Homo sapiens: one gene and its partner. The protein of the gene in region 2 interacts with the protein of the main gene of each other region in a pairwise test. Each region holds a gene or a part of one and is shown on either strand. Other genes may lie near its edges.

Region 1 (5,462 bases), on a different chromosome or scaffold from region 2:
GGTTAATTTGGCTCTGACATTTGGATTCTTTCTGAGATTGTCACAGCAAGTTATTATTAAGTACTGAATCCAAGCTCTTAGCTCCAAGGCATTTGAATCTCACCCACCACTTCAGGTTCTGTGATTTTCATGCAAATTACATAACCCCATTAAGTCCCCTTCCCCAACCTGTGCCGCCCACTTCACAGAACGTTGGGGGCTCTAATGGACCCGTCCTCATCATGGACGCGTTTTGTAAACTGTTAGGGGCTGTGCGGTCACAAGGCTTCGCTAGGCCATCGTCATCAATTTAAGGATCTCCACAGTGTGGTCTTTACAACCTCCCTGGGATAAGGGATCACGTGCATTCTAGAAAGACAAACTCAAGCCCAAAAAGGTCATTTCTACCCAAAGATCACATGGTGGCCCCATTCCTGGTGCTGGTACTGCTGTTACAGTCCAGCCTGGCCAGAACCTTGGAGTGGGCCTTCGTGCTACAAGGCCATGTATGTACCCCAGTGCTCCCAAGGCTATGCCCGCCAGCGCCTTAGCAAGTCAGGGCCCACGGGGGCCACAGATGGTAGGATGGGGGGGTGCCAACAGGAACGGAGGGACGTGGTGGGCGGGTGACTTCTCACTGCTTCCCGCTTATGTAAGAATCAAACTCTCAAGCTGTCACTCTCAGCATCTCCGGGGACAGCCACGAGGCTGGTAACGGGGGAAAGTCAGAGCCCCGTGGGCACCCAGGCGACAGGGAGGCCTTGGGACATTTCCGGCCGCAGCCCCCAGGTACTTCCTGCTTTCCTGAGCCTGTTCTGGGTGTCATGGGGTGTGCAAAGACAGCTCTGGTCCCAGTCGAGCGGCCCCATCCTTGCTGGATGCACGAGGCATTCCCAGGGTAACACGCATGGACACTCACGGTGGTTTCTGCTAAGTGCCAGGTGGCAACATGGTCGCTGAGGGCATTGGAAGGAATCAGGGAATGGGAAGGGCCAGCTGGTCCCAAAAGATCCCTCAGGGGTACAGGGACAGGCTTGGGGAGCACTAGGGGCCTGGCAGAGGCCAGCCTTTAGGGGAAGGAAGTTGGTTTCGGAGGCAAAGAAATTCATTCTACTCAGCCTGAAGCAGCGATACTTCCTCCCCAACCCTCCCTCCCTCCTCCACCTTCTAGCTCTTCATTCTGTTGTCTTGCTCTGGCGGGCGTCACCTTCTCTGGTGACCGGGTCCCCAGCATAGGCCAGAGTGAGTCTGAAGCACAAGTGCAAATTCTGCCTTTTCCCAGTCTGCCCGCCCTGCCAGCCCCGGGGTGGGCCATCTGCACGGCAGTCCACGGGGCCTGCCGACCTCCGCAGTCTCCTTTCAGCCTTTCATCACAGCCAGGCCCTGCTGCCTGCCTCTCCTCTCTCCTGCCGGTTCTAACCGTTGGCTGCCAGGCTTGGCCTCGGCTCCATGGGGCTGTGACCCTGAGGGCCCAGTCCCCCAGTCCTGCTCTAGGCTCCTTGGCCAGAAGCCGTGATCCTTCCTTCCCTAATCCTCTCTCCTCTCTTGGTCTCTTGCTCCCCTGACTTCCTTGTCTTCCTCAAGTACCCCAAAAGCACTTGGGAACACTGTTGTGATGCCCAGGGCCGAACTGCGGGGAGGGGGATGGGGGGAGGGGGATGGGGACAGGGGTCCTCTCCCTGCCACAGGGCATCTGATTATCAAAACGGCCAGGAGCAGGTCTTGATTTGCAAGGCCAGCACTGGCCTAACCACCATCCACTAGCAGAGGCTGGAGGAGCCATCAGGGAGGAGGGCAGAGTGGGCGGCCGCTTTACGAAAGTGTCATTTTAGGACACAGCGAGGAAGGCCCGGGCGCAACGTGTGCAGTCAGCTCCAAACTGAGCTTCCGAGAAACACTATTTCTAAAGACACAGAAAGTTCCCAGAATCCCTGTTCCAACTACAACAGGGCCTTTTTTTTTTTGAGATGGGGTCTCACTCTATCACCCAGGATGGAGTACAGTGGCGCAATCTCAGCTTACTGCAACCTCTACCTCCTGGATTCAAGCGATCCTCCCGCCTCTGCCTCCCGAGTAGCTGGGATTACAGGCGCCTGCCACCACGCTTGGCTAAGTTTTGTATTTTTAGTAGAGATGGGGTTTCACCATGTTGGTCAAGCTGGTCTCGAACTCCTGACGTCAGGTGATCTGCCCGCCTCAGCCTCCCAACGTGCTGGGATTACAGGCATGAGCCACCGCGCCCAGCCTACAACGGGGGTTACTTCTGAGAAGCGGCAGTGGGACCGCAGGTGGGAGAGAATTTGGTTTACACTATATACCCTTTTGTACTGCTTACATTGTTTTGACTACGTGTGAATATTACCTTTTCCATAAAAATAAGAAAAACCAGTTTAAATTGCTTTAAAGGCCATGCCCAGGTTGACCCCTTCCTACTGAGATGTTGGTCACCCAGGAAGCCTGTCCCTTGCTACTGCAGGTAAAGAGCCATGTCCCCTCCTGACCAGTGGGCCACACGAGGTCTTCAAGGGTCCCCCGAGGCTCCCACGCCCAGGCCACCCACCTTCAGGAAGTCCTCGAAGGTGATCCCCTCGTACACCTGATCAGGCTCCTGGGGACGGAAGCACAGGGTGGACAGTGAGTGGCGCAGGTCCCCACACAGCTTCCGCAGGGGGACGGTCCACTGGCCTCCCCTCCCCACCAATACCCAAATGTAAGTTGTTGAGGCTGTTTGGGAGGAATCACAAGAAGAGGAGAACGTTCTGGATCGTCTGCCTCCAGCATGGAGCCGGTCACCCTGAACCTCCAATATCCTCATTCATGGGCTTGAGGGTGGGATGGGAGCCGAGCGTCGCTCACCAGGGCCCTGGCAACGTGTGGCTCAGAGCAGCCTCCCTCCCCTCCCCCAGCCCCCCAGGGAGAATCCGAGGTGTGGGTGACATGAGGGCATGGGGCTCTCCTTCCCCACTCAGCCCACCTCACCACCAGCCCCCCAGCAGCTGGACCACCAAGATGCCTCCTGTACCCGCCTAGGTCTGGCCTCCTCATGCCTGCGCTGTGCTGATAAGAAGATTCCAGGCTAATCTAAGCTCACAGACCTCAGGGGAGAGGTCAGGGAAACACAGGGCCAGCCTGTGAGGCCCACGCCTCATGCCTCGTGAGTCACCGTGATAACTCAGGGCCACTGGGGAGGGCAGGGCCAGAGGGTGGCCACAAGGAGCCTCTCCCTGCTGAGTGGGTTTGGCGATGCCAGTCTCCATCGCCTCTGCGTCCTCCCTGCTCTGGGGATGACACCAGGTGCTCCTGCCCCTTTCACCGATACTCCAGGATCCCACCGACAAGCCTCCAAAAACCTCACCCTGCAGCTCGCTTTGTGACAGCGAAAACCCGCTGACATCCCAGGTGCCCGTCAATAGAAGGCGAGGGACATAAATCTCGGTCATCCACGCTATTGATTCCCACGCAACCATTAACCATTTATGCCTAGTGTTCCATTACTGGAACGCTAAGCTGTGGGAGTTACTTATATCCTACTGGTCAAGGTCATCGCCAAGGTCTGATTGCAAAAATTGAAAAAGCTGCAACCTCAGGCAAAAATGGGTTAAGAAGGGGTTGATCTGTATGTCTCACTCTGGAAAAGGCTCTGAGATGTGTACCCAGCAGATAAAGAACAAAAAACAAAACCCAACAAGCAGAAAGATGTCTGCAGGTCTGTGCACGCAAACCTTTCCTCAGACTGATAACCAGACCCCCACCATCTGCCCTGTGGGTGTGTGGGGTCATACGGAGAAAATGGGAAGCCACATCGGTTCGATTATGTTTTGCATACATCAAAAATAAAAGACATGCATGTATACATTGGTATATGTAGGAAAAAAACCACCGAGAGGGAGTCCCTTTAGGGAAGAGGACCTGGGCTGGTGGGGGAGCAGGAGAGGCTCAAAGCTCTCTCTGTGACTGTCTGAAATTCTGTACAACGTGTGTTTAAGAACACAGGAGGCACACTCTAAGCATGTTATGCACCAGGCATGTATGTCCCAAGTGCCTTCCAAGTGGTATTGTTTTGTTTTCATTTGTTTTGTTTTGTTTTTGAGACAGAGTCTCGCTCTGTTGCCCAGGCTGGAGGAGTGCAGTGGCGCGATCTTGGCTCACTGTGACCTCTGCCTCCCAGGTTCAAGTGATTCTCTTGCCTCAGACTCCCAAGTAGCTGGGATTATTACAGGCATGTACCACCATGCGTGGCTAATTTTTTAAATTTTTTAGCAGAGACAGGGGTTTCACCATGTTAGCCAGGCTGGTCTCGAACTCCTGACCTCAAGCAATCCAACCGCCTGGGGCTCCCAAAGTGCTGGGATTACAGGTGTGACCAAATGCTATTGTTAGCATTTAATGATAGATGCCAATCTCACAACCGGCCCTGAGTTGGGTTCTAGTCTCTCTCCTGTATTACAGATGAGGGACACAGAGGGAGCTGCCTGTCCAGCTGGGAGCATCTAGCTGCCTCCAAGTCCTTGAGGGCTGTTTCTACTGGCAGGACTTTGCAGGCTCTTTAGTTTCCTCTTTATACTTAAAAAAATTTTGGCCAGGCACAGTGGTTCACATCTGTCATCCCAGCACTTTGGGAGGCCAAGGCAGGAGGACTGTTGGAGGCCAGGAGTTCGAGACCAGACTGGTCAACATAATGACATCTCTTTTTAGCAAAACATCTCTTTTTTAAAAAACTTTTAAAAATTAGCTGGGTGTGGTGGTGTACACCTGTAGTCCCAGCTGCTCCAGAGGCTGAGGTAGGAGGATGGCTTGAGCGCAGGAGATGGAAGCCGTAGTGAGCTATGATCACACCACTGTACCACTGCACTCCAGTTGGGGCGACAGAACGAGACCCTGTCTCTTAAAAAATAAATAATAAATTAAAAAAAAAATGAAACCCAGCAGTTCTCGGCTAGCCTGGGCCAGCCCTGTCCCTAATGGCTCCTTCCTCCCTGTCTTCCCACTCACGGGCACAGTGGCTGCCCTCCCTGCCGGGCCTCCCTAGGTTCCCAGGCTGGCCAAGGGGAGCTAATTATAGAAAAGGCCCCCATGGCCAGAGTCTGGGGCTGGAAAGGGGGTGATCGGTGCAAGGAAGGAGGGCGGGGAGTTGGGGGAAGCAGCCCCGGCTGAATGCCCAGTGAAGCAGTCCCCCCATCAAGCATCCATGGGTGTGACCTCCTGAGAAAGCACTCTCAAAAGATCCACAGGCCGGCGCGACGGCTCATGCCTGGAATCCCAGCACTTTGGGAGACCAAGGTGGGTGGATCACTTGAGGTCAGGAGTTCGAGACCAGCTGGCCAGCATGGTGAAACCCCGTCTCTGCTAAAAATACAAAAATTAGCCGGGCGTAGTGGCACACGCCTGTAATTCCAGCTACTCGGGAGGCTGAGGCAGGAGAATCACTTGAACTCAGGAGGTGGAGGTTGCAGTGAGCCGAGATGGTGCTACTGCACTCCAGC
Region 2 (4,529 bases):
TGACCCCCACTGGGGGCGTCCAGAGGAGTTACATTAACACGTGCAATCACATATGGCCACTTAACTCATGTAGGACCCAGGGAACGGTCCATGCCAGTCATCTGCGCCTCACTGCCTCTTAACTACTGACCCAAGACAAAAGAGCTATTAGAAGAGAGAATGCAGCCAACCAAATGCACAGCTCCAAGAGGTTTTGCATCTGTAACAACAAGCTAACATTTAGTTCTTTGGTTCAAAATATTTCCCCTCCTTAACCATTTTTTTAATGCTTCAAAGTTCATCCCCATTTGGGGAGTGGGAAGGGTATGTCCAGGCCCCCTCAGGATCAGGCTGGCTTTTCTTCCTTTCCACCAGGTGCACAGGCAAAACTGGCCACAGGGGACTCCCTGGAGCTCCATGCAGCTCGGCAGGGCCTGTGCAGTCCGGAAGGGAGGGCAGAGATGCCCAGGGCTGTAGGTGCCGGCCTGTGCAATCCGGAGGAGGCCATGCCTGGTGGTCGTGAGAGACACGGGCCTTGGCACGGAAGTCCTAGCTCTGCTGCTGGGTGCTGTGACACCAGGCATTCCCTGTGGGTCTCAGCTTCCATACCTGTAAAATGGGAATAACACCTCACTTAAGGACTCCTGAAATAAAACACGGAGCAGATAACGCAGTGCCTGGTGCATAACAAGCCTCAACATATCCAAGGACTCATCCTGATCACCCATGAGCCTACTTAAGGTCAACCCTGCCTCATTTAAAAAACAAAACAAGACTGTGCCTTCAAGTTCAGGTAGGGGTGGCCCTGTCCGGGGCCAACCCCCGCCTAGAACCAGCCAGGCTTGTGCTGCTGGAGAGGAATGGCCAAGCCAAGGCACTCGGGACCAGCACTGAGCAGCCTGGTGAGCTCTAAGCCCGCAGAGCAGGCAGGGCCCCCGACAGGCAGGTGGTGTGCAGGGGTCCCTGGGGCACCAAGGGACAGGAAACCTCAGGAGAAGGAGGCCCTTTCACCCGCCAAAGTGGAACCTTCCCCACTGAACACCGGATCTCCCAGCACTGTCTGACCTTCAGTCACATTTTAAACACTGAACAGAGGGACAGAGGGACCTGTGTTCCTTGATGTTTCATCTTTGTTCATCCATCGGTCGTCCTCCAAACCAAAGTCCAGAAGCTTCTGCACTAATTTCGAAGTCAGGCTGAACCTTGAGTCATGAACAAAACTCTTTCAATTTTCCTCTAAGTCTTCATGGAGCTCATCATAAGCAGGATCCTCATAAAGGAATTTCTGAATCATTCCAATCAGTGATTCTAAGAACCACATCTTTCTGCGGTCCTTCTGAGTGGCCCAGCTGTGCAAGAGACATCCCCATGCAAAAGCAAAGCCTTGATAGCACCTGATCTCAGGCCGGATGTTGGCTCCGTGCACCCTGCGGTGCTGCCTTCCTTCAGTGACGCCCACGCTCCTGCCTTCCTCCCAGCCTTCCTGATGCCCTTCCCCATGTAACCCCGCATCCGCCTTCATGATGGCATCCAACACGGCCCGGCTCCCAGGGTCAGGCCCAGACGCACCGCTTCAGAGGATGAGCTCTTATCAGGAACTCTGAGACAGCTACTATTGATGGTCAGAGGTCTTTTCTATATCTGCAGAAGTGATCGAGGGTCCATAAGAGGGATCTTCCTGTCTTTCTGAGGGTTTGTTTTCTTTTTCTCTGACAAGCAGGCACATGACCTCCTTGCTACCTTTGCGTCCAGGTCAAAAAGCACTGGGAACTACTAACTTATCAACTTTTATTATTTCTGTGATAGAAAAAAAAAGGAGCCAAAGGGGTATTCCAGGTAGTGGGAAGGATCCCTTAAAGTACCTGGCATTGCACCTGCCCCTGGGAAGCAGGAGAGCTGCCAGGAAGTAGTGCTCCCTCAGCCTCCTGGGCCAGGACCCGCCTCTGCATGGAAGCTTCTCGTGAATCCACCAGCTCGGGAGGACGCGTGGCCTGCACCTCCGCTTGATTTTGGGGGAGCACACTTCCTTTTCCTTAGGACCCTAATAGGCAGTTTTTGCATATGACTATTTCCTAATTTATACAAAAGTGTATTAAAATAAAATATATATTTTAAAGTATTTGCATGGAGTGTACAAAACAATCGTTCTGAGTGGGTGCCTTTGTAACATTTTAATGAGAATTACCTTTTGCTTGGTGTTTCCAGGTTCACAATATGTGCCTAAATCTTTTCAGAGGACAACTTTGACTTTCAAGAGGAGATTCCAAGTGACATCTTGAAACCACCTCACCAGAACCATTGGAGCACCTGTGGCCTCGGCACACTGCTTATCACTTGAAAAATGGAGGAACAAGTGTTATATTTATCTGTGTGTCTGACAGTGTGAGATGTTAGACCGAGAGAAAAGCAAACAAATAAATCACTTAATCTTGAACACTTTGCACTGTAAAGAGAGTGAAAGTCAAACCCACCAAGCTGCCTTGCTGAAAGCATCTCCAAGGTTCTGTAGGCTTTGTTCAGAAGCCCCTGATGTGTGTTTGCAGTCCGTCATTTTATCAATGATACGCAAACATAATTAGCATGTGTATGTACTCACACACTAATTACATGTAAGAATATATTATCTAGGAATATGTCATTTGTAACTTTGTACTCTGACGTATTTTCTAGTCTCACCCTATTAGTAATTCTGTCAAAATCCTAGACGCTAGTAGATATTAGTATTTGAGACAATATGTCAGAGTCTGAATAAGACTCAGCTTGTTCTAGTCATGCTGAGTTTCTCATATATTTTTTAAAAGTGCTTCCGCCATGAACCTCTTTGAGAAATGTCAGTGGCAAAATCTCCCAAGCTAATTTTCTTTTTCTATGTTCCATCTTCAAATTCAGACAGTTCACGTGAAGTACCCCACATTTATTGATCTTAGGGTTGAATATAAACGCAATTAAAAGCTATGGCAGGTGATGTCATCTTTATTGTTTACAGTCGAAGCTCCTCCATGGGAGGGGAGCCTCCCACCCTCCACGTGCCATCAGGAGCTGGCCTTTGCCCAGACGCCACCACTGCAATGACACCTTCCCAGAGCCCTCGTCTCCTCGCGCTCTGTCCTGCTCTGCCTGGCTTTTCTTCAGAGTGTGTTTCCCCATCTGACATTACTGTAGAAAATGGAGCAGAGAACAGGAAGGGGAATTAGCAGAGATGAGGCTCCAGGCATGTCTTCCTCTTGTCCCTCTCCCCACTGTTTCTCTTGATTGTGATTCAAGTCCTTACACTCATTTTTACATTCTCAAATCTCAAATCAGCTAATTTCCTCTTTTCTATCAGATAATTGCATTTCATCAGTCTAATTTTTACTAATCCAAACTGTAACTTTATAAGGCTATATATATGAGCATATTTATAAACTTAGATTTATAAACTATATACACACATATATGTATCATATAAATGCATAATAAATTACTTTCAGACTATTTCTGGCTGTAAGGAGAAGGGATCATTGCCTACTAGTAGATGTCTGAAATTTTAAAAGATGTGTTGAGACTAACATTAATGTTGTCCTTTATCACAGGGTGACAAAAATGACCCAGAGCCTTGCCTCTGTTTGAAAATTTCTCCTTGACTTTGCTGACTCCATTTCTTTTTTCTTTTCTTTTTTTTTGAAACGGAGTCTGGCTCTGTGGCCCCGGCTGGAGTGCAGTGGCACGATCTCGGCTCACTACAACCTCCACCTCCTGGGCTCAAGCGATTCTCCTGCTTCAGCCTCCTGGGTAGCTAGGATTACAGGTGCATGCCACCACACCCAGCTAAATTTTTTTTGTATTTTTAGTAGAGGCAGGGTTTCACCATGTTAGCCAGGCCGGTGTTGAACTCCTGACCTCAGGTGATCTGCCCACCTCGGCCTCCCAAAGTGCTGGGATTATAGGCGTGAGCTTCCGCGCCTGGCCAGCTGACTCCATTTCTATAGCAATGAGACACATTAGGCAGCAGCAGCAGCAGCAGCAGCAGCGACCACCAGGTCCATGCCTCTTTTCCGTGGTCACAGCTCCATGTGTCCGGGGAAGATTGCTAATGCTTAGTTTCCTGCACAAAGCAAACCAAAGCATTTTTGAGAATTTTCTACATTATTCCTAAACATTAGCAATAGAAACTTTTAAGAGCAAATGCCAGTCTTAATTCAGCAGCTCTCCCACTTGAGGAATAGTTAGATATGTGAGTAGCCTGGAGCCCATGTTATAGGGCTGCTGGTTAGGTGCTCTCTGGTGCATCATTACTGCTCAAAGCATGACCCACTTGCTCTTTCAGATCCACTCAGGGTATTTTATGTCCATTTCCAGGAACCATCCAACTCCTTCCCTATTCAGTCCAAACTTCCTTTTTTTTTTTTTTTACTTGAAGTTCAGGGGTACATGTGCAGGTTGTTACATAGGTAAACTTGTGTCGTGGGAGTTTGTTGTACAGATTATCACCCAGGTATTAAGCCTAGTATCCATTAGTTATTTTTCCTGATCCTCTCCCTCCTTCCACCCTCCACCCTTTGATAGGCCCT

What was found.
Region 1: the proteins of FAM149A (region 2) and TESC interact in a two-hybrid assay, tested with the Homo sapiens proteins (one large-scale study listed by IntAct).

What each region holds. Positions count from the first base shown.
Region 1 is NC_000012.12:117,039,408-117,044,869, forward strand, and holds part of TESC (calcineurin B homologous protein 3), read right to left. Parts: intron 2,588-5,462; coding exon 2,540-2,587; intron 1-2,539. UniProt on the Homo sapiens protein: Functions as an integral cofactor in cell pH regulation by controlling plasma membrane-type Na(+)/H(+) exchange activity. Promotes the maturation, transport, cell surface stability and exchange activity of SLC9A1/NHE1 at the plasma membrane.
Region 2 is NC_000004.12:186,169,730-186,174,258, forward strand, and holds part of FAM149A (protein FAM149A), read left to right. Parts: intron 1-2,184; coding exon 2,185-2,258; 3' UTR 2,259-4,529.